Homo sapiens: one gene and its partner. The protein of the gene in region 1 purifies or fractionates together with the protein of each later gene. This does not show direct contact. Each region holds a gene or a part of one and is shown on either strand. Other genes may lie near its edges.

Evidence for each region.
Region 2: the proteins of GUCY1A1 (region 1) and CRABP2 purify together in Homo sapiens (affinity purification with mass spectrometry; one large-scale study listed by BioGRID and IntAct). This does not show direct contact.

What each region holds. Positions count from the first base shown.
Region 1 is NC_000004.12:155,669,620-155,673,641, reverse strand, and holds part of GUCY1A1 (guanylate cyclase soluble subunit alpha-1), read right to left. Parts: intron 3,837-4,022; exon of another isoform or gene 3,750-3,836; intron 1-3,749.
Region 2 is NC_000001.11:156,702,784-156,706,719, reverse strand, and holds the start of CRABP2 (cellular retinoic acid-binding protein 2), read left to right. Parts: upstream 1-1,136; 5' UTR 1,137-1,273; coding exon 1,274-1,343; intron 1,344-3,936. UniProt on the Homo sapiens protein: Transports retinoic acid to the nucleus. Regulates the access of retinoic acid to the nuclear retinoic acid receptors.

The DNA of each region.
Region 1 (4,022 bases):
ATGCACACCCACACACACATCTGATCCCTGCAGTGAATCCTTTCCTTTCCTCTGTCTAGAATACTCTTCCTACTGTTTGCCACATTTAAATCCTACAGGTCCTGTGATGTCCAACATCCTGATCTTGTTTTAAAACCTCAGCTAAGTCTTAGATTTCCTCTGGAAAGCCTTACTCAATATTTCCATCATACCGAACTCTCTTCCTTCTCCTAACTTCTTTAAAACTTATTAAAACTATTCTACAAATATTATGCTCATTGTTAAGTGCTGACATGTATAATTCTGAGACTATTTCTTGGTTTTGTTCATGCAGACTTTAAATTCCTTCAAGTCAAGGAGTGTGTGTCATAAACTTTGCTTTGTATCTTCCTCAGTGACAAGCATAATCCATAATAAACTTTATTGAGAGAAGTACAAAATAGTGGCTGAGTCTCTAAGAAGAGTGTTATAAAATATAAGACATAAAATAAGTTGAAGCTTATAAAAAAAAGAAAAAATGTCCTTTTAATTCTTGCTATGATTGCCAGATAAAGTGGTGATAATGGCATTTTTATTAGATATAGGAAGAGCACACTGGATAAAGATATTCAAATCACAGTACATGAACAAACAGGCAGAACTACTCTGCTCTTGTTTTGTTTCATATCCATTCCTTAAGAAAACAATATCCATACTTATAAAAGTAGAACAAAACTAAAAATAACAAAGGTCCAGCATGTAGAATGATAGCAAATATTCTAAATGAGTTTAAATCCATTAATTTGGAGAAATTACACTACAAAATATTGAAAGCATGTGTGGATAAAATAAAGGAATTGTTAAAGTCATCTTTAAAAATATTGTGATGAAGAGAAGTGTTGACAGAGTCCAACCATTGCCTCAATTTTCAAAATTGGGAAGGTGGATTCCATCAGCTATAATTTAGAGAGCTGGACATTAATTGCAGGTACTATTCCAAAGAGATGATTAAAAACATGGCATGCAAGCATTCAAAATGTGAAGTGCTGTTATCTACAAGATAAGGAGAGGTCACAGGAACCTATCCTTGTCAACTAACCTAGTTATCTCCTTTTGTTTTTAATAGCAGTTACTTGACATCTATTCTGCAGAAAGTGGAGACTCATTTCAGGGAGGAATTTGACCAAGTCTGTCTCAGTATACTCTCTTAAGTCACACAAAGGAATGTCAACTTCAAAGAGAGTTATTTGACTATATAACTGGTTGAACAGCCTTATAAAGAGGAATAATTTATGGACTAATGTAAAGCAGGAGTCTAACGTAAAGGACGGTGTCTAGGAATATGCCAAAGGTAGTTCCAGTTCAGCATTGTAGATAGTTACTTGGATGAAGATGTTAATTATATCCTGATCAAATCTGTTAATTCCTCTAAATTGGTGAAAATGGCTATTCTGTATCAAGGACTCAGAATCCAAGATGACCTTGACTTTCTGGAACAACAGGCTAACTAAAGGTAATGATTAAATTTAATTGCAGTAAGTATTTGTAAAAGTCCCAAATCAAGTGGCCAAACATAAAATTCGATGGGGAAAATAAGTGTATTTGCAGAAGAATGTGCAAAAAAGATACATAATTAAACAGTGTTGTATGAGTGCAAAAAAAAAACGGAGGGGGGAAGAGTAGAATAGATTTCAGGTTGATTTACTACATGATATCCAGAGAAGATAAATATATCAGAGGACAGTCCTCTATGTTAAACTCTGGGGATCACACTTTAATAAAAACAGAAGTGCATCCAAAAGAGAAAAGCCCTGGTAACAATGAGACTCTCAACCCATGGTAAATAAGCATGGGTTGAAGAAACTGAATATTATCTTAGACACTATTAAGAGTTGTTAGATGTAAAAGCATTTTCTATAAATACTCTAAGAGGTAAAAAATTAAAGATATAAATATTATAGAGACAAATTCGATAGCTGAATATAAGAAAAGAGTTCTTATGCTCACAGCTGGTCAAAGAAATGCTTACTGTATTCAAGATGAGTGTTGACAAATAATTTGCCCAAACTGACCTTAACATCCTCTGTGAATTAAAAAGTATGGTCCTCTGCTAAGAATGAAGAGTCTGGAGATAATCTGGGCAGACTAGAAAACCTGGAAAAATCCAGAATATGTACCATGGAGAATTTGATATGACATTAACTAAAAAAGAATAAAATAGCTGCACAAAGTATCCTCCAAGCTGACATTGGAGTGAAGCAATTGGTAGTTGGCTACAAGATACAGTTATGTCTCTCTTTGTCCAGCTAAATCAACAGCAAGGAAGGTAAAGCAAACATTAAAAGTGAAGCTGACATTGGGAAGGCAGGTTCTGGTAGGTCTAGTGGCAAGAGATTTAAGGGTTGGAGCAGAGTTAAAATTGTTGGTGAAATAAATAACAGTTTACAAGCAATTCTGAAGAGGCCACAAACTATATGACGGAAGAGCACACAAGGGTCTCTGTCACCAAGACCATAGCTCCATGTGGTAGCATCAAAGCATAAACAAGCCTTAATTCAAGAATAACAATGACAACAATGTTAAGCTCTTTAGACACCTACTATGCACCAAGCACTATGGATCCAACATTGGATACCGTGAAGGAGATTTGAGTTTAATGGGAGATGCAGACATTTAAACAGGTACTTTCAATGTCATGTGACATAGCAAAAGGGGATAAATAGATAGGCTGGACCTAGAAAAAAAGGTCAGGATTAAGAAATGGGTCTGCCCCATTTGCTTCCCCCCTAAGAAGGTGTTCACTCTCAAAGCCATTGTCTCGTGTCGACTTCCTGCTAATTCTTAGTATGGTGAGATAGATGACTTGGTATGTGAGTTAATTAATTTGACTTGGCCTCAATTTTTAAAATGGAGGATTTGTTTTAATGAAATATTGTTTAATGGCCAGAAAGCATACCAGAAGTTAGAAACTACAGGCTGTGAGGCACATTCTTGTGGCAAGGAAGAGCCTGCTCCAGAGTCCCTCAAGTTTTAAGATGTAGCCATTCTCTCCTACTGTGGGCTGAGAGGGAAGCCCACTCTACAGCTCTTCTTTCACCCCTCCAAAATAACTCTGTTCATCCTCTGTAAGCCTTCGAGGCTATAGGAAGATGAAGCCTATTGGCATGAACCCAGGGAAGAAGAAAAATTACATATATAATAGGTAAGACATTTCAAAATGTTCTGAAAGAAAATAAAAGAAGCAGATATGATTCAGGATAGCCAGGAAATTACTTCACCCAAAGTAAATCAACTAGTAACTAAACATTGACAAAAGCTCTTCTTATATCAAGTCAAGATGTAGACACCCAAAACAAACTATTGCAGAATGAATGTAGATGGTCAAGAGACAAACATATTTTTAATTATTAATACTTTGGGGAAAAAATTTGTTTTTACAAATGTGCAGAAAAGTAATAAATAGAAATGTTTAAGAAAAGTGGCTTGGGTAAATATTTTTAATTAACCAGTGTAAAAATAGTGCCTTCAAAATGGAATATTCTCACAAATAAAAGCCAAGCAACTTCTTAGTGAATCTGACAGAAAAAGTCATTCTCAGTAACAGCTTCCTCCAAAAATTTTTCCCATTAATGCACATACTTTTTGGCTTGTATTACTGAAATGTTGCTTTACCTTTCCATTTCCCCTTACTTGTAGAGATTCATTCTGATGGCTAATTTGATGTTTATTTAGTTCTGAAAAAAGGTTAATTAGAAATTATGGGGGTGCAGATCGTGTTATTTTAAACTAACCTGTAAAGCAAGAAATATTATCCTCAGTCCACACTCATTAGTTGCTAGCAAATGTAAATGCAGGATTTAATTTCCCTTGTATAGTTTCTGAAAAAATTCAAAGTTATGCAATATCAATGTGTCAATAAAAGTGATGTTAGATAAACATTTAATTTTTTTCAATTTCATTTGAAAAATATAACAAAATTCTTAAAATTCGGTCACAAAATATTTTACTGATGTATTTGTAATAGATATACTTTAATTTTAATATTATCACTTGTTTGTAGTGAA
Region 2 (3,936 bases), on another chromosome or scaffold:
GGCCTGTCCCCGAGGCTCCCCGCCTGACCTCCGTTTCTGTTTCTCCGTCTCCCTGCCATCTCCACTGGGGTCTCGCCCACTCCCACTCGGGTCTCTGCAGGAAGCCGTGCCCTCCTCCCACCCTCTTTGATCTCCCGTTTCAAAGCCGCTCTCCAAGGGAGGGGAGGTCGCTCCTTCCGCCCGTTTTACAGCTCAGGATGGTGACACCTGAGACCCTGCTCCGCCTTCTCCCCCGGCACCCATCCTCCCGCCTATCTAGGTGGTGGCGCAGCTCGCCAGGGCTCCGCGCCTCTGTCCCCGCCTCCCTCCCTTCCCCCTACTGAGACCCCCTCGGGGTCTCGGGAGTGAAGCGACAGAGAAAGCGTTTTAATAAAGACCTTGCGTCAAGTGATTGGCTGTGACCTCTGCCCTCCCAGCCTCGCGCCCTGGGCTCCTGCTTAACCCTTCAATGTCCGCCCAGCGCATTAAGGGGAGCGAGTCGCCTGGCGACTACTTCCAGAGTCCCCAGGCATTACGTGAGCCCGAAGCAGGGTGGAGGGGTGGGGGGACCGTGCCGCCCCCGCCCAGCCTCTCCGAGTTGTTCCAGCAGGGGGCGCCGTTGCCTCACTTAGATCCCTAACCCCCGGAACCCCGCAGCTCCCAAGCCCCTCTCTGAGTACGGAGTGGTCCCACTGGATCCAGTTCAGGGTTCAATGGAGCTAGGGCCAGCTACGGCTCAAGATCTGGGGTCCGCCTGCGGGTGGGGTCGCCAGGTGTCCGGCACCAAGGAGTTGAATGCACCGAGTCAGGTTGGGGATGGGTGGGGAACAGGCGAGACGTGAGGAACTCGGGTGGGGGACAGCCATACACGAGCCCTGAGCATCTGCGCCCGCAGCTAGCTCCCCCCGCCTCTGCGGAGAGCGCGATTCAAGTGCTGGCTTTGCGTCCGCTTCCCCATCCACTTACTAGCGCAGGAGAAGGCTATCTCGGTCCCCAGAGAAGCCTGGACCCACACGCGGGCTAGATCCAGAGGTTGGTGGCGGGGGCGCAGGGCCCCCCAGGTGGGGGGGGGCGGAGCGGGAGGCGGGGCCACTTCAATCCTGGGCAGGGGCGGTTCCGTACAGGGTATAAAAGCTGTCCGCGCGGGAGCCCAGGCCAGCTTTGGGGTTGTCCCTGGACTTGTCTTGGTTCCAGAACCTGACGACCCGGCGACGGCGACGTCTCTTTTGACTAAAAGACAGTGTCCAGTGCTCCAGCCTAGGAGTCTACGGGGACCGCCTCCCGCGCCGCCACCATGCCCAACTTCTCTGGCAACTGGAAAATCATCCGATCGGAAAACTTCGAGGAATTGCTCAAAGTGCTGGGTAAGGAAATGTTCGAGGGCCCAGGTGGGGCAAGGGGGGGCTCTGGAGTCCTCGAAGTTGGGGATGAGAAAGACAGCGGGACCACAATCAGGGCGTGAGACACTGGGTGCCTGCATCCCCGAAAAACGTGCCAGGCGTCCGGGTCCCGGGGCTCTGGGCACGACGCCTAAATCCCGCTTTCTCCTGCGGGGGCCCACCGGTGCCAACACTGCGGTGACTCACGGCCTGTGAATCACGTAGAAACCAGAAGCGCGAGGTTGGCCTCTGGGGGAAGGGGAGGCTGGCCTCAGCGGCCGGACTCGGCGGGCCGAGGCACCTGGCTCTCTGCAGTTCAGAAGCTGCGGGCTGGTGGAGCCACGAACCCTGCATCCAGACTGGGAGCCCGGTTCCCTACCCTGCCCAGCCGCTCGGAGACATTCCAATCTCCTTCCCGGTGCCCCCCTCGGTAACCCAATCCCCAGGGCAGGCTCATTACCCCTCGGCGCCCAGCTCTGCCTGCGAGGTGATCTGCTGCCCCAGCGCCCCCTGAGCCCCACTTTCCTCCCCCTCTGCACTTTCCACTCTGCTCTCCCCACCCCCCATCTGTGAGACAAGTATTTTCATACAGCGAGCAGCTCCAGAGTTCTAAAATCGCTAGGGATAATTATCACTTTCTTGGATTTCAACAAATGGTTTCGTGTGAAACCCCAATCCCACATTTCCAAAAATCTAGGTTCCCACCTACCTCCCCCGACCATAGATCGGCTGCAGCCCAATTGGGTGTGTTGGTCAAAGGTGGGGAAAACTAAGTCAATCCAGACTGCCTTTCCCACTTTTCCAGCCCACCTTCTGTGTGCCCTCTGGGCCAACTGGGCTAGACATCTGGGGCAGGGGAGAGTGCCAGGACCTGGTGACTGGGAGAGGACTCTGGGGGAGAGATGGACGTTAGTTAAGGACCCCAGCCACTGGGAGCGTAAGGGCAGGCCTGCTGCCTTCAATTCCTGCACTCAACAGAGAGACGGTAGTTCGGCTGGGTTGGGCGAGAGGGGAGGGAGGGAAGGCACCCCTCTCCCTGGACTATAGGAGTGAGTCTGGATCTAAGACAGGTCTGGAATGCTGCAGAGAGAGCAGGGATCTCCATCAGTCCTTGCCGTTAGTTCTTCCTGCGATCTAACCACAATACTTCTTGGAGTCATATCAGTCTTTCTTGCTCTGTCCTTGCTAAACTTAAAGACAAAAAGAAATTTTCTCTTTGGAAAGCCTAGATGCCACTCCCTCCTCATCTTCTCTGGATTCTGGCCCCTGTCCTCAGTGGATGAGGTGGTGGTCTGGTACACCCCCAGGCCCCAGCTGAAGAGTAAGATTCAAGGCCCCAATCCTGCTGTCTGTCTTCAGTCTGTTTGTCCTCCCTGCAGGGTCTCTCTGAGCCACGTGCCCTCCTCAGGCCCTGCAGGGGGCAGATTAAAAACAGATCCATTAGACAAACACAGTCCTGAGCCAGCTAAGGCCGGCTAAGCTGGGCCCTCAGCTCCACAGGCACCAGGGGCTCGCTGAAAGGATGTCTCCTCTGAACCCAGCCTTGCCTCTGCAGGAACTTCGGTCCTGGCACACCCCTCTTAGCTCTAGTCAAGGGTCCATCTCAATAAGACTTGGGGACCTGTCATTTCTTCCTAGACACAAGAGTTCAGCAGCCAACAATGGGGGTCCTGGGCTCCCCAGGGGCAAGGCTTCCTCTCTCCCTCTCTCTTCTGTTTGCAGTAGGGTAGGTATGCTTTGGCACTGAGGGGAAAGAGGATTTGTTTCTCTAGGAACCCAGGTCTGGAGGAGGTCCAGGGAGTTGGCCAGATCAGGGGCAGGGAAATCCTGCTACCTGGCAGAGGGCCCTTTCACCCCCGCCTAGTGCATCCCTGGCTCTACTCCAGGACAGGGCGGCAGATCAGGCCAGGTGAGGTGGGTGTGTGGAGCTTAGACCTGGAGCCCATCCAGAGAGGCCCCCTGCTCTGCACGTCTTCCTTTCAGAGGGGTGCTGTCTCCTATCTCCCCCACTTCGGTTAATAACTGGGGAGCAGAGAGAAGGGGTCCAATCTGGGCTGGGATATGGAGGTGCACAGAGAGTCTGAATCCACGAGGCTGAATGAGATAGCCGGACCCTGTGAGGGGAGTGGGGGGTCCTGAAGAAGGGGATACATCACACAGAGCGGGGAGGGCAGTCTCCTTTTCTATTCCTTCTTCTCACAGCAGAGGGGGTTCCCTTGAGGGGACAGGGGTATGGGAGTCTTCCAGAAGGGCAGATGAGTACGGTGCCTAATGCAGAGAGCTTTGAGCCCCAGCTTTTTGCTTTCCTTTTTTTTTTTTTTTTTTTTTTTAGTGGTAGGGTCTCACTGTGTTGCCCAATCTAGTCTCAAACTTCTGGGCTTAAGCAGTCCTGCTGCCTCGGCCTCCCAAAGTGCTGGGATTACAGGCATGAGCCATGGCACCTGACCCTTTGCCTTCCTTTTATCAGTAAAAATAATACCAACAATCATAGCTATTGTTTCCTGAAAACTTAAGCATATGCCTGGCACTGTGTGTGCTAAGTCCTAAACACATACCATCCCAATTGGCTTTTTTTTTT